Regions from separate parts of the Homo sapiens genome. Here region 2 is linked to region 1. Evidence: fine-mapped expression QTL. A gene starts in region 1. The other region holds a variant in brackets. All regions are shown on one strand. Distances are between the middles of the regions.

Region 1 (11,505 bases):
AATTATCCACCCCAAAATATCAACCATGCTGCGGTGGAAAAACCCTGCTTTGGAGACGCCCCTGGCTCTTCTCTCTCATATCCTACAACTGCTCCATCAGCAACTCCTGCCCACGGTAGCTCCAGAATATACTCAAAATTCAAACAACTTCCCAAACCCTGCTGCCCCCACCCTAGATGAGCCTCTCGTTGTCTCATTTGCCTTCCCCTCGGTCATTTGTTAACACAGCAGCAAGAAACATACCGCAAAAATGTAAGTCAGCTCGTGTGACTCCTCTGCTCAAGAACCTTCAACGGCTCCCATCTCCGAATCTAAAGCAAAGTGCTTTCTGGGATGTATAAGAAGCCGTGAGGCCGGGTGCAGTGGCTGACATCTGTAATCCCAACACATCGGGAGGCTGAGGCCGGAGGATTGCTTGAGCCCAGGAGTTTGAGACCAGCCTGGGCAATATAGTGAGACCCTGTGTCTACAAAAAATGGGGGCATGTGCCTGTAGTTCTAGCTATTTGGGAGGCTGAGGCAAGAGGACGGCTTGGGTTCAGGGGTTCAAGGCTGCAGTGAGCTATGGTCTTACCACTGCACGCCAGCCTGGGTGACAGAGCAAAACCCTGCCTAAAAACAAAAAAAGAAAAACAAAACAAAAACAAACACAGAAGCTGGCCAGGCATGGTGGCTCACATCTGTAATCCCAGCACTTTGGGAGGCCTAGGCGGGCCAATCACTTGAGGTCAGAAGTTCGAGACCAGCCTGGCCAACATGGTAAAACCCTGTCTCTACTAAAAATACAAAAATTAGCCGGGCATGGTGGCACACACCTGTGATTCCAGCTACTCGGGAGGCTGAGGTATGAGAATCGCTTGAACCCAGGAGGCCGAAGTTGCAGTAAGCCAAGATCACGCCACTGCACTACAGCTTGGGTGACAAAGCAAGACTCTGTTTCAATAAATAAATAAATAAATAAATAATTTTTAAAAAACAGAACCTGTGGGATGGGGACCCTGATACCCCTACGACTGCACCTCTTACTCCTACGTTCTCCGCCACCCACTCTGCCCCGGCCACGCTGACCTCACACTGGCTTGATCAACACACAGCCACACTCCCACCTCAGGGCCTCTGCGCCTGCTATTCCTACAGTCTGAAGCACTTTCCTCCATCTCTTACTTCCTTCAGACCTGTGATCAAATGTCACCTGCTCGGGGAAGCTTTTCCTAGATTCCTTATCTACTTCCCACGGGGATCCCTGACCCCTCCCATCCCCTCCCCCAACTCCTTGTCCTCCTTAGCACTCAGTTCTATCTAACACCCTAAAGGTTGACTTTACCTCCATCATTATCTGTCTCTCCCTTAGAATATAAGATATATAACGACAGGAGGTTTTGTCTGTTTGTTTTCCACTGCTGCAGCCCCAGAATCCAGAACAATGCCTGGCACATAATATAAACTCAATAAAAATGGGACGTTGAATGAACGAATGAATGAATGAATGACATCCCTACTAGATGCCACGTGCTGTCCTAGGGCTCCCATGATGGGAGCCCTCACACTTGGCTCTATGCCTGGTACTTGGTCAGACCAGTGAATGGACATGAACTCAAACTTCCACAGGAGAGGCAAAGAACATCACGAGAGCCGTGGGAGGAATGGGAGGCGAGACGGAGCAGATGGAGGTGACTGTGGGGAAGTGGAGACCCCCCAGCTGCTGCTCAGATCCGGCCCATCGTGGTCAGGGTAGAACACAGGCTTGTGCTAGATCTTCCGCCAGCTCAGAAGAAGCCGGAAATCAGAACTACAATGGGAAGCCTCCCTATTTTTAACTGTTGGCAATGGATTCAGATTTTGCTTTCAGTTTTAAACACTTTGTACACTAGACAGAGCGCATCTGTGAATCCCATCCATGAGATTCGAGTTCTGCTCTTGGCTCGGCCCCTTTCTCAGCTAGGTGACCTTGGGCAAGTGACTTCACTTCTCTGAGCCTCAGTTTACCCATCCCCAACAGCGAGGTGGTGCCCACCTCATAGGATTAAACGAGATAACGTTCCCGGCTTGTCGTGAACACTCAGCAAAACAGAGGAAGAAGGGGCAGAGGAAATAGAGGGGGATGAAAAAGAGAAGCAAGAGATTTCAATCTTTTGGCCGAAGGGGGCATCAGGATGGCTGGTTCCACTCCTTCACGTTGCAGACAAGGGCTGTGAGGCTGGGGTGCAGGAGGGAAGACAGTGGTCACACAGCAGGGCAGATATGCAGCAGAACTGGCACCCAAGACTCCTGCTTCCCAGCCCCGCAGCTACTTGATACTCAGGAAAGAAATACTGATGCTAAGAGTGGGAGAGAGAAGGGGTTGGCACAGCAGAGGGCAGGAGTCTTGGAGAAGTGGGGAAGTCGAGAGCCAGGGAGCCGAGCTAGGAGAGAAGCTGTGAGAGGGAGAACAGGACAGAGGAAAAGAACCAAGTCGAAGATCCGAGGAGGTAGCAGGGGCAGGAGCGAGAAGCCTTAACGTGAAGGCCTGAGGCATCGAGTCAGGAAGACGTCGAAGGAGGCATGAGTGGAGGAAGAGGAAGTGGAGTCCACTAAAGGAAAAAGGAGGAAAGGACCAGGATGGGAGGTTGGAGGGCACCCTGGTGGGAGAGACATGGGTGGGGGCACTGATGGGAAGAGAAAGATGAACAGGAGGAGAAGCACAAGGCAGAAAAGAGAGAAAGTCATGAGTGAGGGCGAGTTAAGGCACGAAGTTTCAGGGGAGCAGCAGCCAAAGAGAAGGGGAAAGAGACAGACCGGAAGACTGGGCCGTGAAAGGGGGCGGGAGAGGCAGGGGACTTCAGAGGACTGGGGGGGAAATGTCGGGAGAGAGAAGATGTCACGGGGCACGAGGGAGAGGAAATGAAGGGGCAGGTGGAGCGGAGGAGCAGGGTCAAGATGAACTGACGGGAAAGAGGGAGAAAGAGGCTGCTGGGTGCAGTGGCTCATGCCCTTCATCCCAGCACTTTGGAGGCCAAGGCAGGAGGATCTCTTGAGCTCAGGAGCTCGAGACCAGCCTGGGCAACAGGAGACCTCATCTCTACAAATAATAAAAAAAATTAGCTGGGCACAGTGGCTCATGCCTGTGGTCCCAGCTACTCAGGAGGCAGAGGTGGGAGGATGGCTTGAGCCTAGGGATTCGAGGCTGCAGTGAGCTGTGATTGTGCCACCGTACTCCAGCCTGGGCGACAGAGTGAGACCTTGTCAAAAAAAAAAAAAAAAAGAGAAAAGGCACAGGGCAGAGTGGAAGAAATGAAACAGGAGGAGCCCCAGGTACTGGAGAGAGGGAAGATGCAGGGGTGTGATGGGGCAGCGCAGGAGACACGGACTAGGGAAAGATAGGATAAGGGGGTTCAGCGGAGAGGCAGAGGGGCTGCAGAGGGAGCATGCCGAGGAATTCCGCAGGGTGCCAGGACGCAGGGAGGAGTGGGAAGGAGGGGAGAGGAGGTCAGGGGCGCGAGTGGGAAGGCGCAGAAGCCCCTCTGGCAGAGGAGGAGGGGTGCCCAAGGGGGCCCCAGGATCAGGGACAGGCAGCCCCGGGAGGCTCAGGGTCTCTCGGAGGGGAGCGGCGGGGGCTGCGGGGAGGGCCGCCCGCACCCTACCTTCCAGGCAGCAGATCCTCCAGAGGCCCGAGTGCGTGAGGCCGCCGGGGTCCTTCTTCTCCGAGGCGCCGCCGCCCCCGCGGTGGGGGGTCCCGTCGTCGCCGCCGGCCGTGAGGTTGGTGGTGTTGCAGATGAGGGCGCGCGTGTAGAGCCAGTAGTCAGTGCTGATGGCGATGGTCATGAGGCCGAAGGCGGCGAAGGCGCCCACCGTCGTCAGCAGCACCTGCACCCCCTTCTCGCACCAGAGGCCCCGCTCTTCGTTCCAGCGCTTCAGCGACTCCAGTTTGACCACGGGCAGCCGGGGGGCCGTGGGCCACCACCGGGGCAGCGGGGGCGGGGCCGTGCCGGCGGCTGGGGGGGGGTTCACAGCGCAGGCAGAAGCGGGGGGCCCGGGGCCGGCGGGGCTGGGGAGGGGGGCGGCGAGGAGGAGGCTGCGGCCGGGGAGGGGGTCAGAGCGCGGCCATGGTCGGCGGCTGGTGGAGGGCAAGGAGCGAGATCTCGCATTAGAGGAGAAGAAGGCACAGGTACCTCCCCCAGTCCCCGCCCCCCCCCCCCCAAAATCCCTGCCTCAGCTCCAGAAACTCCTTCCACTCGGGGCTCCACTGCTTCTCTTTCTCAAAAATAATAATAATAATAATAATAATAATAATAATTAATAAATAAGATGAAATCTCTCTCCACTCTTGTCTTCTGCCCAAGAAAGTCATCCCACCATCCCACTAACCCCACTCGGAGGAGTCCCCACCACCGCTAATAATTAATAAATAAGATGAAATCTCTCTCCACTCCTGTCTTCTGCCCAAGAAAGTCGTCCCACCATCCCACTAACCCCACTCGGAGGAGTCCCCACCACCGCTAATAATTAATAAATAAGATGAAATCTCTCTCCACTCCTGTCTTCTGCCCAAGAAAGTCGTCCCACCATCCCACTAACCCCACTCGGAGGAGTCCCCACCACCGCTAATAATTAATAAATAAGATGAAATCTCTCTCCACTCCTGTCTTCTGCCCAAGAAAGTCGTCCCACCATCCCACTAACCCCACTCGGAGGAGTCCCCACCACCGCTCACACTCACAGCCCTCGCCCCTAGCCCGCGCCGCCTCCGCCCCAGGGGGCTCCACGATCCTCATCGCATGGGAAGCCACCCCCCGCCATGATGCCAAGCCCCACGCCGCCGCCTCCTCCCCAGGAGCCCCCGTCGCGTTCTTCCTTCCTTAGCGACCCCCGCCCCATCACCATGCGGCGCCCACCAGCTCTCCCCACTCTTCCCCTGCAAGCCCCACCTCTCCACCCGCTAGAACCCTTCCCTGTCAGCCCAACTTTTCCCTGAGCGTCTCCACAACTTAAGAAGCCCGAGTAGCACCACTTCCGTGGGAGTAACCTCCGCGAGCCCCCTCCGGTCTGGCTTTTGTCATTCCATCACTCCAAATGGTCCCCCACAGTTTCCTCTCCTTAGGAAAAAATAAATCTCTCAACCTCTCTTCAACTAAAAAGGAAAAATTAAAAGAAGAAGAAAAAGAAAAAGAAAATCCCAGCTGACCCTCACAGTTTGTGCAACTCGGAATCACCAGCCACCCTCAGTCAGCCTCCTCTCCCTGGAAGCCCCCTTCCTGCCTCGGGCAGCCTCCAACACACCTGGAAATCACCCGAGGACCTTAAAAATTCGGATGTTTGAGTCCCACCTGAGAAAGTCCGACATGGTTGGTCTGCAGTGTGGCCTGCGCATGTAAGTTTTTAAAAGCTCCCTGGGGAATTCTAATGCACCCAACATCAGACCCACTGGTTTGCAAGCTGCCCCCCCCCCGCCATCTCCAGCCCATTCCCTGTCACAGCCCCCACTGTCTCCCCACAAGCCACTCACTCCCCACCCCATACTATGCCTTTACTCCAGGAAAACCCCCACCCTCTCTTTTGCTTTAGAAGAGTTTTCTGAATCTTCCCACCCCGCCACCCCCCCCCCCACAACTTAAACGAACTCATATCATAACCATCGTTTTCTCCTCCATTAAGAAAAATTTCCTCCGTGAGTTCCACGGCATTTTCTACTCGCAAGAATGGCTTCCTCCAGACCCCAAATGTCTCTCCACTCAGGACCATTCCAATCTCTGCCCTGTACTCCCATAGCAGGGGGCACACTGTACCACCCACCCGCCCCTCTGCACTCACAGCAGCTCCCACTGCCTCCAAATCCCCTCCTCGTAGCCCTTCATCATCACACGGGATCTTCAGCACACTGTTTCCCCCAACTTGAGATCCCCCTAACTCACTTTGAAGCCCACTCTCTCTTCAATGTACCAGGAAGCATCCTCCCCAACTTCTCTCTCATCATATAGAATTCCCTTGACTCACTTCCTCTTGCTCCACCGCTATAGCTCCCAGGTTCTCCTCTGCCCCGGAAAATCCCCTCCGCAGGCCCCCACAGGCTTCCCTTCTTGGGAACGCCCCCCAGTACTCCCCTCTACGACTTCACCTGTACAGGAACACACACTGTAGCCCCTCATCTTCTTCCACATGCAGAAAGAGCCCCCCCAGTAGACTGTGTCCCTCTGAAAAATGTGATCCGCAAGACTACAACTCTCTTTTCAATTAGGAATACTTTCCCAGCCTGCACCCGCTGCCCCGTGGCTCCTTCATTTCTCTCTTCCACATTCTCCCCCGACCACCATGCCCCCAGCCCTGCCTGTCTCCCCCACCCCAACTGTCCTCTGGGGGATGTACTCCTTACTTGCTTCCACACTGCTTCTTCAACTTCTTCCCCCAAACCCACTATAGTTAAGAGCCTGGAAACCTTAGACGAAGAGGGGATTAAAAAAAAACAAAACAAAAACCAGAACCTAGGTCCCAGTACAGGGTGACCTTGGCCTCCTGATTGCTTGCCCGTCTCCACTGCCCCCCATCAGCTGGCCTCAGACTGGGGCTGCTCCGAGGAGGGGCTGTGGAAAAAGGTTGTCTATGGGGGGTGTCTCCATGGCAACTGGGCCTAGTGCCCCACACGTTGTGTTCCCTCCCCCACCTCAACTCCCGTCTGCCCACACACAGCCCTTCCTCAGGCCACAGTTCAGCAGCCCGCTGGACAGGGCAACCCCCAGCCTCCCGGCCTGGGCGCCGGCCCCTTCCTCTCTTTTCTGTCCGCATGCTGAGTTTCCTCTCTTCTTGATCTCTTGGCCTCTTCTCCCCGAATTGGTGCCCCTCACCACCAGCAGGGCCACCTACCCTGTCTTAACAGATATCTGCTCTCAGTGGGGTAAGCCTGTGACCCCAGGCCCCTAACAACCTGGGATAAGAGGGGAAGGGAAGAGGAGGGAAAGGAGGGAAATTCTCCTTCCGTCCAAAAAAAAAAAAAAAGATTCGAAGATCTTTTCATTTTGTCAATTTGGGGCACAATCTGGTTTTAGGGACTCTTAGTCCATCGTTCAGCAGCTGCCAGGGAGAAGAGAGCTGGGGACCCCCAATTCTAAAGCTTCCGGATATGAGGGGGTCACTCTCCTTTCTCCTTAGGAAGGGGACCAGCTCTTTTCTCCAGAATTCGGGGGGGGGGATCACAGAACATTAATTCTACCTCCACCCACCTCCGATTAATAAAAAGATCTGTCTCACCTCTGTTAATGATAGGTCAACTCTCCGATGCACGGAGGAGGGGACGTCGAGCCCCCCCTGTTGGCACCCCCCCCAGAAAAACCTTTTGGCTCCCAATTCTCGCTGCTTCCCCCTCCCCCAGCAGTGAGGGACCCAGGCGTCCGACCTGGTTCGGGGAGTGGAGATGAGGAGGCGTATGGGGAATGGGGGTGCTGAGGTCAGGCTGGGGCTGGGGGGCAGCTCTGAGCCTGGGCCCCAAGGGAGTGAGGGTCGGGATATATATATTAAAAAAAAAAGGTGAGGAGACAATTTGGTTCTCGTGTCGCTGGGTAAAGTGCGGAGCTGGAGGACGAGAGGGAGGGAGTAGGGAGGGAGGGGGAGGGGAGCTGCTGAGGGATGGGGAGCCTCGGAGAGGAGATGGATGGGGGAAGGGAAAGAGGGGGGCAGGGTCGAGTGGCAGAAGGAAGCCGGAGGAGAAGAGAGAGATCCAGAGAGGGAGGGAGAGAGACAGAGAGAGACGAGGAGAAACGGAAAGAGAGAGACCCAGAGACCGCGAAACAGAAATGGGGGAGGGAGAAATTTGGGGGAGGCAGCGGCTGGAAGCAGAAGGAAGTTGGAGAGATACACACAGAGAAATATCCAGAGAGAGAAGGGGACAGGGACAGAGACTCAAAGAGAGAAACGCAGGGGCTGGGGGGGAGGGGGTGGGGGAGGGCTGGGGTAAGTGTGTGTGTGGGGGGGGTCAGGATCTGGGAAACAGAAGGAAAGAAGAGAGAGGGAGAGAGTCATCCAGAGAGGAGGGAGGAGGGACAGATGGGGAGAGACAGACAGAAAGAGAGAGACTGAGAGGATGGGGGAGAGAGGGGGGAGAGGGAATGAAATGGAGAGCGGGTAGGGAGAGAAATTGGGGATGGGGGCAAGGTCTTGCTAGAGAGAAGGAAGCTTTAAAGAGAGAAGAAGATGCGGAGAGGGAGCGGGGGAGCAAGATAGTAAATGAAAGAAATGGAGGGTAGAAGGGCCTGGATGGCAGAAGGTACCTGGGGAAAGAAAGGCAAGTGCAGGAAAAGAGGGAGACCCAGAGAGAGACAGACGGAGAGGGACTGAGACAGGAAGAGAGAGAGATCCAGAGAAACAGAGGCAGACACAGAGACTGGGGATGCACCCGAAGGAAGCCCAGAAAAAATAACGGGAGAGGGGTGAGGCTGAGAAGCCCCGAGGAGGTCAGAGATGAAGGATACCCCTGCCCCCGCCCCCTCCCGCGTCCCCAGCCCCGGATCCCTGCCCCCTCCCCCATTCCAATGCCACCACCCCCACCCCCACTAGCCTCCATCTCTCTTCAGCATCGCTTGCCGCCGCCACCGCCTCTTCCTGTCGTCATAGCAACAGGATCCAGGCGCCCAGCCAAGGCTGGCAGCGGCGGCCGGAAATGAGGGGAGGGCCTTTTCAAAAGGACCCCAGGAATGCTCCCCTTTCCCAAAATCCAAGGGAAAGCGCAACTTCCCGGGGTCTTCCCACCGCTCCTCCTCCAAGTGGCGAGGGCAAAGATTCCCCCCCCACCACCCCAGATAAAACAATATTGAACTTACCACGTTAACAAGCCTTTTGACTTTCACCAACAATTTTTTCTTTTCTCTTCTCATCCCCCTCCCCTCCCCTAGTTCAAACCTGATGGGGAAGAAGGGGTAGAGTTAGATGCCCCCGAGATGGGGCTGGGGCTGGGAAGGAGAGTAGAATGCCAAAAGCTTGGGTGCAAATATGTCTTAAAGAAACTTGTCTGGGACTGGGTAGGGGTCTATGCAACAGTTTTGAGAAGCATGGATCTGTCCGTTCTAGAACTAGCTAGTAGGTTGGGGAAGTGGAACAATCGGAGGTGGAAAGTCTGAGATCAGAGTCTGAAAGTTCGGTCTTGGGTCCAAATTTCACGGATGCTCCCAAGGCTTCGTGTGACCTTGGACAAAACACTTCTTCTCCTCTATACTCAGTTGCTCTTGGTTATAAAGGGCACAGAAGCTGCCTCCAACCAAGTGAGAACGCGGATGGGAAGTGGGATTGCACGTGGCTCTAGGCAAGCCGTTTACTCAAGACCCGATCCTCGTAAAAATGTTATCAGAAACTAAGAACTAGTAGCCATGGCTGATTGAAGGCTGTTGGCATGCTTCGCTGTCTTACAGAAGTCCTACAGAATCTTTGCCGTGTGGGCACCAATGTTCCTACATTAACCATGAGTAACCTGAGGCTCTGAGACAATAGGGGTTATGGGGGTGGAGGGCGGCCAACAATAGGTGAAATTCATAGTCATTTAACCCAGCACACCTTTACTGCTCCCTCCTGGGGGCTGGCAGAAACAGGAATAACCTGTGTTCCCTAAATCTATTTACCTAGTGTTTGCTCCTGCTGGTTCCTTCCTTTGGAGGGGCGATATCTTTCAGTCCCCAGCATCTCACATTTCTACTGAAATTTCTTTAGGTCGTTTCACTTAATTCTCACCCCGCCCCATGGGAGAAAGTTTAGACATGCATTCCAACACTCCTGGTTTAGAAGCTAAGAAACACAGCCCCCAAGGGAAGGGGTCTGGAATTCATTCGTTTGAGGAAAGTTGATTATTTTCTGCTCTTTTGCTGGGGGATGCGGGGGGAGATACATCAGCAAACAATGATGATAACCAATATAAACTGGACATTTAGGCTGGGTGCAGTGTCTCATGCCTGTAACCCTAGCAATTTGGGAGGCCGAGGCGGGCGGATCACCTGAGGTCAGGAGTTTGAGACCAGCCTGACCAACATGGTGAAACCCCGTCTCTACTAAAAATACAAAATTAGCCGGGCATGGTGGTGCATGCTTGTAATCCCAGCTACTTGGGAGGCTGAGGCAGGAGAGTCACTGGAACCAGGGAGGTGGAGGCTGCAGTGAGCTGAGATCGAACCGTTGCACTCCAGCCTGGACAACAAGAGTGAAACTCCGTCTCGAAAAAAATAAAAATAAAAACAAACTGGGCATTTAATATTACAGACTCCAAGGAGCCTGAGGGTATTGGTTCCATCTTCAAAAGAAGTGGGTTCTGTTAGCAGCCTCCACTTTAAAGATGTGAAAACTGAGGTTGAGAGGTCAGTTGTATTGGAGGACATTCATCAGGACATCAAATTCCAGAGCCTGTGCTGATACAACTGCACTGGTGAGAACGACTATGAAGATAATTTTTTAAAGCCAGGGTTTCCCAATCTCAACGTTCTCAACATTTGGGCTGGATAATTTTGTGTGGTGGAGGCTGTCCTGTGCATTGTAGAATGCTGAGCAGTACTCCTCGCCTCTATCCACTAGATGCCAATAGCACCTCCAAATAGCACCCTAAAAATAGCATTTGGGGACAACCAAAAATGTCTCCAAACATTGCTCAATGTCCCTTGGGGAACAAAATCGCCCCTGTTGAGAACTATTAAATTATACGAACTAGCAACTGGGGGAAACCTCTTTATTTTATTTTAAATGAAAATATATTTCCTAGTCCAATCAATATAGGCTCATGGTTTAAAAAAAGAAAAGAAAAAAAATCAAATGGTACACAAGGGACTACAATAAAAATAATTTAGCCTGTTCCACCTCAAGTCCTTTTCCTTATTGGAAAAGTCTATTAACATTCTTGTTTTTGCTTTTGTTCTTGTTACTTGAGACGGAGTCTCACTCTGTCGCCAGGCTGGAGTGCAATGGCGCAATCTCGGCTCACTGCAACTTCTGCCTGCCGAGTTCAGGCCATTCTTGTGCCTCAGCCTCCCGAGTAGCTGGGATTACAGACATGCAGCAACATGCCCAGCTAATTTTTACATTTTTAGTAGAGATGGGGTTTCACCATGTTGGCCAGGATGGTGTTGATCTCCTGACCTCTTGATCTGCCTGCCTCGGCCTCCCAAAGTGCTGGGATTACAGGCATGAGCCACCACACCCGGCCGTCTATTAATATTCTTAGCTATTTCTTCTCTTACTTGCCTTGACATCCCTAAATAATGATTTTCTTTTGGAATCAAAATTATACATTATTTATAGATATTTTTTCTCTAATAGATAACAAATCAATTCATGCAGCCCTCACTTTTCCTTCCCTTCTTCCTCAAGTGTTAGTTCTTCTATTGGTAATTTTGTGACACTAAGTGATGCATGATTACATCATGATTTATTTCAACAACTAAAGAGTATATCTCTTTTTTTCACAGCTTTATTGAGATCGAATTCACATATCATGCAATTCACCCACTTAAAGTGTACAATTCAACGGCTTTTAATTGTACAGAGCTGTGCAATCATCAACTTCAGATCA
Region 2 (11,631 bases), 28 kb before region 1:
GGGACTCCCATTTTGCAAAAGTTTGAGATCATCCTTTATGAGACCCCTGAGGGGCCAGAGACAGCCCATCTGCAGAAATAAAATGATCAAGGGTAGCCCATCTGGACACCAAGTGGGTAGCTCAGACAGCCGGGGGGCCTGGCATCCCACTGTCCTATCGAGGGCTTGGGACATCCTATTTTGCACTCTACACATATAAGATATCACATCTGGAGAAGTGAGGGACGAGGGAAATCTCATACGGAGCCCAGAAAAATAGGCCATATTCTTTGAGGGGCACTGGGATGATAGGACCGTCTTTGGAGACTGAAGAGTGCTGGAGATCTCATATGGGTGATCAAATATATGACAGCCCAAATGGGCTCTGAGGAGTGCCAGGTATTTTCCATGGGTCAGTGGAGGTAGAAGGAGATTTCATCCAGTTCCCAAGGGGTATAGAATGTCCCCCTGGTATAAGCACAAGCCGTGGCGTGGCGTGTCAGGGAGGTATGGAACAGCTCTCTGCCATGCCCAGGGATAAAACAGCCATGATTTGGGAAAGGAGGGAGTATGGGAATGTCTCTCGGAGAAAATGAGAAACGCTGAAATGTCCAGTCTGGGCATTTGGAGGCGAGAGGACAGGAAGTGAAGAACATTGCAGGGAAGGAACAAGGTCTGCCCTCGGGTGTTGGGAGGCGTCTGGTGAGAGCTTGGTTTGGTGGAAGCAGTAGGTGGGGAACAGGCATAGATCCTGCTTTGGGGTGGGCGTCTGTCTCCCCAGGGCTCACAGGATGGGAGCGCAAGCTGTCTCCAGGCTGGGAAGAGGAAGCTGACACCAGGAACCCAGGCTGTCTCTCCATGGGCACAGGCTGTCTGTGGGCACATGCAGAGTGGGCACGGGCTGTCTCCAGGGCACAGGCACTTCCAGAGGGTGCAGGCTGTCTGGGGTGGGCACAGGCTATCTGAGGACACCAGCTGTGTCTGGAATCACAGGCTGGGTCTGGGGACACAGGCAAGATTTTTCTAGTGACACAGGCTCTCTCTAGAGCTGTAGGCTGGTCTGGGGGGACACAGCGATGCCTGGGAACATTGGCTGTGTGGGGGCAGGGACTTTGGGGGTCATAGAATCATCTGGGACCATAGCCTGGTGTGGAGGTGCAGGCTGATCTGAGGGCACAGGCTGGTGTAAGGATGCAGGCTGGTCTGGGGGTATAGACTGGTCTAGGGGTGCATGTTAGTCTGGGGGTGGAAACTGTAGCTGGGGACACAGGCTCATCTGGGGGTACAGGATAGTCGGGGTACAGGATGGTCTTGGGGCACAGGCTGTAGGCGGGGGCACAAGCTCTCTTTAGAGGTGCAGAATAGGGGTACAGACTCGTCTGAGGGGGTCTCAGGTCACAGCCTGGTCTGGGGGTACAGGATGGCCTGGGGGCACAGACTCCCTGTAGGCACATTCTGGTCTTGGGGTACAGTCTGTAGCAGGAAAGCAAGCTCTAAGGCACAGGTTCTCTGGCGGTAGGCCCGTGAGGGACCTGGGCCATATCTGGGGGATCCCTCTATCTCTCAGCAGTTTCTGAGAGCAGAGGACGAAGTGGGCACTGGCGCTTACTGCGAGGCAAGCTGTCTCCTCCGGGCTCAGGCTTTTGTCCCTGGGGCGGGTTTTCTCCTCGGACACGGGCCCCTCTCCCTCCCTGTCCGTGGGACGCAAGCCCTGCGCTCGGGGCGGCGGCTGCTCACCTCCGGGCAGCTCCGCGGGGCCGCAGGTGTCCCTGTCCACGGGCACGTCCGCCTGCCACAGCCGCTTGGTGCACGCCTTCCACAGCCCCAGGTGGGCCGCTTCGCACACGGCGCTGCCGTTGGCCTTGTAGGTGTTGAGCTCCACCCAGAACTCGGTGCCCACGGACAGCACCGCCAGCGTGGCGCCCACGGCGGCCAGCAGCAGCGCCAGCTTCACCTTCCCCTCGCGCTCGGGCGTCAGCCCCGACCTGCCCTGCCCGTGCGCCCGCCGCCGGCCCGCGGCCCCCCGCCGCCGGTTCTCCTCTTGCAGGAAGAAGTTGGACCACATCATCTTATGGCCGGTGGGGTCGGGAAGGGGGAGGAGGCAGAGCCGGCGAAGGGCCTCGAGGGGCGGGAGCGAGGAGCGGCCTGGGGTCTTGAAGGGGGTGAGGGACTCAGTTTCCCCTGGGTATGAAAGAGGGAGAGCCGAGTCCTGTCTGGAATCTCAAATGCGAAAGTCGAGATTGCTTCTGGGGTTCAGAAGAGAAAAATGATCCCCAGGGCTGGGGAAGCCTCTGGGGTTCAGAGGAGGGTCTAGGTTGCCCTCAAGAACTTGGCAAAGAAGACGGGGCCCAGAGGAAAAACAAGGCCCCCACCCTGAGGTTTAGAGATAGAATTCGGCTTCCCAGGAGGGAGTCCCCCCAAGAGCTCCAGAGGAATGAGAACTGGTGCCCGCTGAAGCTCCCTGCAGCTCCAAGGGGCTGCTTTGGGGTCCCCGCTGGGGGGTTAACAAAAGGGAAACTGGTTTTCCTGAGAGATCTGAGCACCCCACTAGGGCTAAGAGTTTGGGGTACCCAGGAAGGGACCTGAGGTCCTGTGTGTGTTTGGAGGAGATGTGGCCGGGGTTCCCTTGGGCTCAGAGTTTGAGAACAGAGGACTTGGGGACCCTCTGGGATTCGGAAAAGGAAGACCTGGGGTCCCGGGAAGCTCCCAAGGGGAGGTCGGAATTCAATCCGGGTCTCAAGAGAGGCAGTAGGACCCCGGCATCCACAGAAGGAGAAGAACAGAGCCCTGGCTGGGGCTCAGAAGAGGACTGGGCCTCGCTGGAATTCAGGAAAAGGGGATAGGGGTCTCCCCTGCCATTCAGAAAAGATCCGAGGTCTCTACTGAGCCTGGAAAAGGGGCCGGTGGCCGGAAGACAGAGTGGAGTCCAGAGGCGGGAGGCTACGGGGCCTCCCCGAGGGCTGGGGCAGATGGGACCGGGGGCCCTCCTGGGGCTCACACTATGGGGCTGTGGTCCGCACTGCGGCTCGGAAAACCAGGACTGAGTCCCCCCAGGGTTCAAAGGCCAACCGCGACCCGCAAGAGACGCTGCGCCCCTTCGGGATCAGTCCGTCTCCCTCCCCCGGGCTCCCAGGGCCTTCCCGGTCGGGTTCGCGCCAGGCTCAGCCCCAGGCCAGGGCCCCCCCTCGGGGCTCCCACCCCCGACTCCCGAGCAGGGGCCCCTCTCGCTCTCCTGCCTCGGCCCCGCGCCGACCCCAGCTCCGCGCTGCCTCCGAAGCGTCCGGCTGTGCCCGCCACCGCCACCGGCCTGGCCTCCGCCCGCGCCCGGCCTCGTCCCCACCCGCCCACCCCCCACCCTCCACCCTCCACCCTCGGGGCTATTTCGGGCTTGACCCGTAAATAACACCCGCACCTGTCGCCCGGCGCCTGTTGCCATAGGGATCCCGGGTGTTTTAAGGGGACGAGGAAGGGGGGAGGGAGGCCGCCCGGGGAGGAAGGGGCCGAGCCTGATGGGACTTTCATTTCACTAAGGGGCAAGAGCGGCGCCGAGAGTCCCAGCTCCGCAGTCTCCCGGGCAGCAGGAGACGGGCGGGGCAGCAAGTCTGACTGGGGTTACCAGGGAGGAGGGGCGGGAGGCAGGGCCCCGGGTCTCAGGGAGGAGGGCCTGAGGCCAGGAGTCTTGGGTCCCTAAGGGAGAAGAAGCCTCGGTACCCCACTTCTGAGTGGTAGAGGAAGAAGGCCTGGGTACCCAGAATCTTGGATCTGAGAGGAGAGGAACCTGGTCTCCTAGGTCCTGGGCTCCTGAGTCTGAGGGAGGAGGGGCTGGGGGCCTGAACTCCTGGGTCTGAGGGAGGAGGGGCTGGGGTCTGGACTCCTGGGTCTGAGGGAGGAGGGGCTGGGCCTGGGCTCCTGAGTCTGAGGGAGGAGGGACTGGGGCCTGGACTTCTGGGTCTGAGGGAGGAGGGACTGGGGCCTGAACTCCTGGGTCTGAAGGAGGAGGGGCTGGGGGCCTGGACTCCTGGGTCTGAGGGAGGAGGGGCTGGGGGCCTGGACTCCTGGGTCTGAGGGAGGAGGGGTTGGGGGCCTGGGCTCCTGGGTCTGAGGGAGGAGGGGCTGGGGGTCTGGACTCCTGGGTCTGAGGGAGGAGGGGCTGGGGCCTGGACTCCTGGGTCTGAGGGAGGAGGGGCTGGGGGCCTGGGCTCCTGAGTCTGAGGGAGGAGGGGCTGGGGGCCTGGACTTCTGGGTCTGAGGGAGGAGGGACTGGGGCCTGAACTCCTGGGTCTGAAGGAGGAGGGGCTGGGGGCCTGGACTCCTGGGTCTGAGGGAGGAGGGGCTGGGGGCCTGGGCTCCTGGGTCTGAGGGAGGAGGGGCTGGGGGCCTGGGCTCCTGGGTCTGAGGGAGGAGGGGCTGGGGGCCTGGGCTCCTGGGTCTGAGGGAGGAAGGCCTGGGCCTGGACTCCTGGGTCTGAGGGAGGAGGGGGCAGGGGGCCTGGACTCCTGGATCTGAGGGAGGAGGGGCTGGGCCTGGACTCCTGGGTCTGAGGGAGGAGGAGGGCCGGGGAGCCTGGACTCCTGGTCAAGGCGTTGGCAGACCCAGAGTCCTGGGCCTCAGGGAGGAGACTGGGGCCAGAACCCTGGGTCTTGAAGGATGGAAGGCCTGATTTCCATGTTGGAGAAAGCGCAGGCCTCAGGGCAGGGCCGGCTGTCAGGGGCACAGAATGAAAGCAGCACTCCTCTTCATCGAGTTTATTAGACGGGGCACCCCTGGGGGACCTTCCATGCAGTTTCAGCTCCCCCAGGAGCAGGGACAGAGGACAGCCGTGTGGCATGGCGGCAGGGCCTGATCTTCAACCCCTCACCCCCTACCCCTCAGCCCTTCTGTGGACGGCCCAGGTGGGACCCACCTTTCACCAACTCCTTCTTCTCCCACAGTTGGCTGCTCCAGGCAGGCCTGGCGCTGACCTGAGCGAGGCTCTGGTGCACGCTGGGCCTCTCTGCCCACCCCCTGCTCTGGACTTTTCCGATGGAGCACGTGTTTCCCCGCAGTGTGATTGTCTGTGTCTGGTTCTTCCAGCAGACTGGGGCCGGGGCCAGGCACAGGAGGAATTCACCTTGGCATCCTCAGCTCTACCCGGCACAGGGCCAGGTCACAGGCAGTCTTGGAAAATGTGCATGGGGTGACTTGAATGAATGGATGGATGAATGGGCAAAGGAATGACCAGATGGAGTGAGATGATGGCACACAGACATCCCCGCCCCAGCTAGGGGAGGGGCCTGCTGCGTTTCCTCAATGCCCGCGTGGCCCCGTCAGAACACAGCCCCCTCTGTATTCTAATTGTCTGGACTACCTGTCCCCCCCTCTGAAGGCAGAGATGGGACAGAAGTGGCCTGAGATTGCAGGGCCTTGTACTTGGAAGTCCTCAGGAAATATTTTTTTTTCTTTTTATTGATCATTCCTTGATGCTGTGCTTGCTTCTGAGTCTCCACGTTGCTTTCTATGCGAATCTCTGGGTCTTTCTCCGGCTTACGTCTCCCTATCTCTGTGGTTGTGTTTTTGTTATCTCTGGGACTTCTCTGATTTGTGTACCTGTCAGTCTCTCTCCTCCTCCTTTTCTGTCTTCTCTGTATCACCTTCTTGTCTTTGACTTTATTTCTTTGACTTTCTTTCTTTCTGTTTTCTGAGACAGGGTCTTGCTCTGTGGCCCAGCCTGAAGTGCAATGGTGCAATCATAGCTCACTGCAACCTTAAACTCC[T/C]GGACTCAAGCAATCCTCCCGCCTCAGCCTCCCGAGTATCTAGGACTACAGGCGTGAGCCACCACGCCACAGCTCATTTTTCATTTTTGTAGAGACGGGGTCTTACTATATTGCCCAGGCTGGTCTCAAACGCCAAGCCTCAAGCAATCCTCCTGTCTTGGCCTCCCAGAGTGCTGGGATTACAGGCATGAGCCCCCAAGCCTGGCCAGAAAGTATTTCCAAGAACTGAGTGAATGTTTATTTCTGAAAATGAATGATGAAAACGTGTTCTTCCCCTTCACCTCAATAGGTCTTGACAGGGTCTACAGGGGGAATCCCAGAGTGTGCCCGGCGCTGACAGCAGCAAGAGACAGGAGCTGGGCAGAGCATCCCTGGCTAGGGGATCTGCCAGAGCCTAGCTGACAGCATCCTCTCTTCCCTGCCCCCTGAATTCATCTTCCCCTCCTGGCCCTGGGCTTCCCCATCTCTCTTGCTCCTGCCTGCTGTGACAGCTAATTGCAGGATGCAATTTTCTGCCTCCCATCTCCCTATCTGCATGTCTCCCTACTTCCTTTCAGGGTCATTTTTTTTTTTTTTTACCTTTTTTCTTTTTTGAGACAGAGTCTTGCTCTGTCACCCAGGCTAGAGTGCAGTGGTGTGATCTTGGCTCACTGCAACCTCTGCCTCCTGGGCCCAAGAGATTCTCCTGCTTCAGCCTCTCAAGTAGCTGGGATTACAGGTGTGCACCACCGCACCTGTCTAATTTCTGTATTTTTAGTAGAGACGGGGTTTCACCATATTGGCCAGGCTGGTCTCGAACTCCTGACCTCAAGTGATCCACCCACTTCGGCCTCCCAAAGTGCTGGGATTACACACGTGAGCCATCGCACCTGGCCTTTGTGTCAGTTACACACACACACACACACACACACACACACACACTTGCCTGAATTCCCTTTCCTTCTGTCTTCCCCCCAAATTCTCTCTCCCCTCCACTCCAGCAGGGCTTCTGTCCCCACCACTGCACTGAACTGACATCTTATCTTATCAAGATCACCAACCCTGTCCATGTCATCAGACCTAATGGTCACTCTGCTCTCTGCATCCTTGTCCAAGTCTCAGCAGCCCTTGGCACAGCTGGCTGTCTCCTCTCCTTCTTGAAACACAAAGGTGCATTTGCCCTCTGTAACCCTCCTGGTTTCAGCCTACCTCGAGATCACTCCTAAGCTCGTTTTGCTACATCCCCTTCTCCCCCAGATGTAGATGTCCCCAAGGCTCTGGCCAGGGTCGCTTCTCTGTCCCCACCCCCCTGCTAGGCCACGTCACCCAATCCTGTGGCTTTATGTTGACGTTTCCAAAACTTACGTTTTTGAGCCACGGCCTCTCTTTCCCCCAAACTCCAGTCTCACATATCCAACTGGCTATTTGATACCACAACTCGGATTTCTCGAAGGCAGATCTATCTTGACACATCCAAAAGAGAAGCCTTGGTTCCTCCCTCCCAAAGCCACTTTCCTGATCCCAGTCTCCTCGTTCCTGGTAACAATCCTCATCGGTGCCCATCAGAGATGTGCGTGCCCAATTCAGAGAGTTCTTCTCTTCCTGGTTCCTTTTCCTTCCCTCCTCTATGACATCCAGTTCACCACCAATGCAGGCTCTAGCCTCCAAAATCCCATGCCTTCTTCCACTTCCTCCATCCCACTAACTCCACCTTGGTCCAGGCCTCCAGCAACCAGAGGAAGGCAACAGCCCGCTACCTCCTTCCTTCCCCTTTGACTCCTGAAGTCTACGTATGCTCAGCACAGCAATGTAATTCTGCTGTTCTTGTTTAAATAAAAATATGAGGCCGGGCGCAGTGGCTCACTCCTGTAATCCCAGCATTTTGGGAGGCCGAGGCAGGTGGATCATTTGAAGCCAGGAATTTCAGATTGGCCTGGCCAACACGGTGAAATCCCGTCTTTACTAAAAATACAAAAAAATTAGCCAGGCGTGGTGGCACATGCCTGTAATCCCAGCTACTCAGGAGGCTGAGGCAGGAGAATCACTTGAACTTGGGAGGCGGAGGTTGGCAGTGAGCCGAGATCAGCCCACTGGACTCCAGCCTGAGACAGAGCAAGACTCTTTTTCAAAATAAATATAAATAAGAAAATAAAAATATGATCATGGCATGCCTGTGCTCAAAACCCTCCAAGCACTTCCCATCAGATCTAGAATAAAATTCAGATTTCTTCCCAAGGATCCAAGGCCCTAACTGATCAGCCCCTACCCTGTGCCTCTGTCCTATGGTGGATCTGCTCACCGCACAGGCCTCCTCGAAGACCTGCTACTTTTCTGGGCTTTGGGGCTGCCTCTGGTGGGTGGAATGCCTGGCCCCCAGACTTTCTCACCTCTCTTTCCTACTCACAATCCACATCTCTGTGACCTCTGCCACAAGGTCTACTCCAAGGACCTCATCTAAAGTCATCCTTGCTCTGTCATTCTGTTACCACTCACTGTCGCCCAGGCTGGAGTGCAGTGGCGCGATCTCAGCTCACTGCAACCTCTGCCTCCTGGGTTCAAGTGATCCTTCTTTCTCAGCCTCCCAAGTAGCTGGGACTACAGGCACACCAGCACACCCAGCTACTTTATTTATTTATTGGTAGAGATGAAGTTTCACCATGTTGACCAGGCTGGTCTCGAACTCCTGACCTCAAGTGATCCACCAGCCTCGGCCTCCCAAAGTGCTGGGATTACAGGCATGAGCCACTGCGCCCGGCCTTCAGCTTAATTTTTAAAGCACTTTTTGGTTACTGAAATGATATTATTTATTGTTTATCTCTCCAGTGTGTTTCAGGAGAGCAGGCCCTTGTCCGTCTATTTGCCACCACATCCCCTGGCCGAGATTGGGTCTAGAACAGGTTGGCACTCAATAAATATTTCTTGAATACTGGGAAAACAACACACCAGAAATGGAGCATTCCTTGACGCTGCGCTTGCTTCTGAGTCTCCACGTTGCTTTTTGTGCGAATCTCTGAGTCTGTCTCCGGCTTACCTCTCCCTCTCTATCTCTGTCTCTGTGTGTGTTTCTGCTATCTCTGGGACTTCTCTGATTTGTGCACCTGTCAGTCTCTCCTCTTCCTCTTCTCTCTCCTCTGTATCACCTTCCTGTCTTTGACTTTTTCTCTGTCTGTGACTCTACTAGTTTGGTCTCTCCTGCTCTCCCCCTCCCTCCCCATCTTGCTCTTCCTCCTGCCTACCCTCAACCTCATTCTTTCTCTCTCTCTCTCTCTCTCTCTCGTTCTGTTTGGCCTTCAGACTCTAGAATCCATTCTCCCCTAACCAGTTCCCTCTCCCTCTTCCAGCAAATATTTGCTGTCTCTCAATTTTTTTTTTTTTTTTGAGACAGAGTCTCGCTCTTTCGCCCAGGCTGGAGCGCAGTGGTGCCATCACGGGTCACTGCAGCCTCACCCTCCCAGGCCCAAGCGAGATCCTTTCACCTCAGCCTCCTGAGTAGCCGGGACTACAGGCGTGCACCACCACACCCGGCTAATTTTTGTATTTTTGGTAGAGACAAGATTTCAATATGTTGGCTGGTCTGGAACTCCTGAGCTCAATCTGCCTGCCTCAGTCTCCCAAAGTGCTGGGATTAGGAGCCACAGCACCCGGCCAGATTTGTCTCTTTTAACACCCGCTCCGGCATCCCTCTTCTCTCCACGTATCCGTCTCTCTCACTCAGCGCTTCTCCGTCTCACTGATTTGTATTCCTTTTCCTACATTTCCCAGCATCTCTTCCTGAAACCGCCTTGGCAGAATTCTTCCTAGGGACCTTCAGTCTCTCTCTTCCTGGTCCTTCCACACAGGCCTCGGAGAGAAATTCTGAACACCCAGCTCTGATCTGTACCCTTCCGTCAAGAGAAGGGCACGCAGAGCCCCTGGCAGCATGGCACCACCGCTGCCACGTCCTCCTCAAGCTGCGTCTGTGCCTGTTTTCCCGCCAGACTGGGAGCCCCTTGAGAGCAGGGCAAGATCAAAATCACCTCTCCACTCCCAGCACCGCCCAGCACAAGGCTTCGGGGGAGGCCTCAGGAAACACTTGCTGAGCAAATATGGAAGGGAAGCCTACTGGGCGCTGTCCCCTCTGCCTTCTCAGTGAACTTCAAACCCATCCCCTCCAATCACCGCACAGCCCTTGCCCCCGCGCAGCTGTCATCCTCTCTCACCATCCTTAGAAGAGCCTCAGTCCCTCTGCCTGGAACTCAGGCACCTTTTTCTCTTTTTTTCTGAGACAGGATCTCAGTCTGTTGCTCAGGCTGGAGTGTAGTGCCGCGATCCTAGCTCACTGCAGCCTCGAACTCTTGGAGTCAAATGGTCCTCCTCCCTCAGCCTCCTGAGTAGCTGTGTCCACAGGTGTGCTCCACCACGCCCGGCTAATTTTTTTTAATGTTTTGTAGAGACAGGGTTTCGCCATGTTATCCAGGCTGGTCTCAAACTCCTGGGCTCAAGTGATACTCCAGCCTCAGCCTCCCAAAGCGCTGGGATTACAGGCATGAGCCACCGCGCCCGGCCACCCTGGTACCTTTACACTCTAGCTTGTGGCTACTTTCCCGGCCTCATCTCCCAGCCCCACCTTGTACATCAGCATCCCAGAACTGTTAGCACTGACCCCAATACATCATGCTCGTTCACTTCCTCCCGTTTTCACCCAAGTTGTTCTTTGGCCCCACAAGCCTTTCTCATGCCTTTCATCAACCAGAAGATGCCCACTCATTTCTTCAAGACCCAGAATGGGCATCATATTCTCCAGGAAGCCTACCCCAAGTGCTGCTCACTCCTGGCAGTTGGTCACTCTGTCCACCGTGTGCCACGGTACCCACGGTGGTCCGGGTTCCAGCACCGATTGCCCTGCCTGGATGGCGGTGTTTGATGACAATAAACTGCTTGAGAGCAGGGCTAGAGTCTGTTTCACCCCTGGGGATCTGGATCCTAACACACTTCCTGGTACCTTAGCAGATGGCCAAAAATGGCAATGGGTGAGTGGCTGAATGAACGAGTGACAGACACATGAGTCTCTAAGCCCCACGGCTTTCTCCTGCACACCAGACACCATGACTATGCTTCAGCATCTGTGTAATTACGTGCTTCCTCCCACAAGAGTGTGAGCTCCAAGGGCCCGTGCCCATGTTTGATGCTGTATTTCAGCACATCTCTGCCTCCTACTCTTGCCTCCGAGTTCCTGTCTTCCCTTTGTACACCATTCACGTTAGCGTCCTGCTTAAACCCGTTCCACGGCCCTCACCACTCCTAGAATAAAATCTGAACTCCTGACCTACGAGCCCCTGCACAATCTGGCCCTGTCTGTGTCTCCGGCCTCACCTTGATCCCCGCTCACCTGCCTCACTACCCTTCAGCCCTCGCTGCAAGCTCCTTCCTGCCCCGGGGCCTTTGCACGTGCTGCTCTGCCTGCCACACTCCTGCCCCAGCTCCGCCCTGCTGGCTTCTTCTCATCCTTTCACTGTCCACTGAAATCTCTTCCTCACAACTGGGTTAGGCTCCCCTGATGGAGCATTTCATAGCATCTCGTTTCTCCTATAGCCTAACTGTAATTTATTGTGTATGTACATGATCGATTAATGCCTGTCTCATGCACAAGATGTTTACTCTATGAGACGTCGGGGCCCCTGGCTGTTTTCCTGCCTCCTGCACGCTGAGCACGGAGCACAATGCCTAGCTTTTTAAGGCGCACAAATAAATTGCCGGTAATGAATGAATGAATGAGAAGGCCCTTTCTGTGCCTCGTTCGTGTCCCCTGCTCCAATGCCTTCTTATGTACCAGTGCCTGGTACACAGTAGGTGCTTAATAAGCCCTTGTGGAATAATGAATGAAAAAAATGAATGAATGCCCGCGTCCAACCCTTCTTTCTGCCTTTCTGCATCCCTTCGC

What was found. PIP is the estimated chance that this variant, and not a neighbour inherited with it, causes the effect.
Region 2: its variant is fine-mapped to the expression of CACNG8 in whole blood (INTERVAL, PIP above 0.99).

Annotation. Positions count from the first base shown.
Region 1 is chr19:53,955,540-53,967,044 of GRCh38, reverse strand. CACNG8 (calcium voltage-gated channel auxiliary subunit gamma 8) reads right to left here and starts at 4,108. Exons shown (of 4, transcript NM_031895.6): 1 at 3,620-4,108. The coding sequence starts at 3,902. RefSeq lists enhancers at 4,747-5,267, 6,078-6,978, 9,189-9,723.
Region 2 is chr19:53,983,294-53,994,924 of GRCh38, reverse strand. CACNG8 (calcium voltage-gated channel auxiliary subunit gamma 8) reads right to left here. Exons shown (of 4, transcript NM_031895.6): 4 at 4,710-11,631. It overlaps CACNG6 (calcium voltage-gated channel auxiliary subunit gamma 6), which reads right to left and starts at 3,288. Exons shown (of 4, transcript NM_145814.2): 1 at 1,717-3,288. The coding sequence starts at 2,047. The variant T/C (reference allele first, on the strand shown) is at 5,733.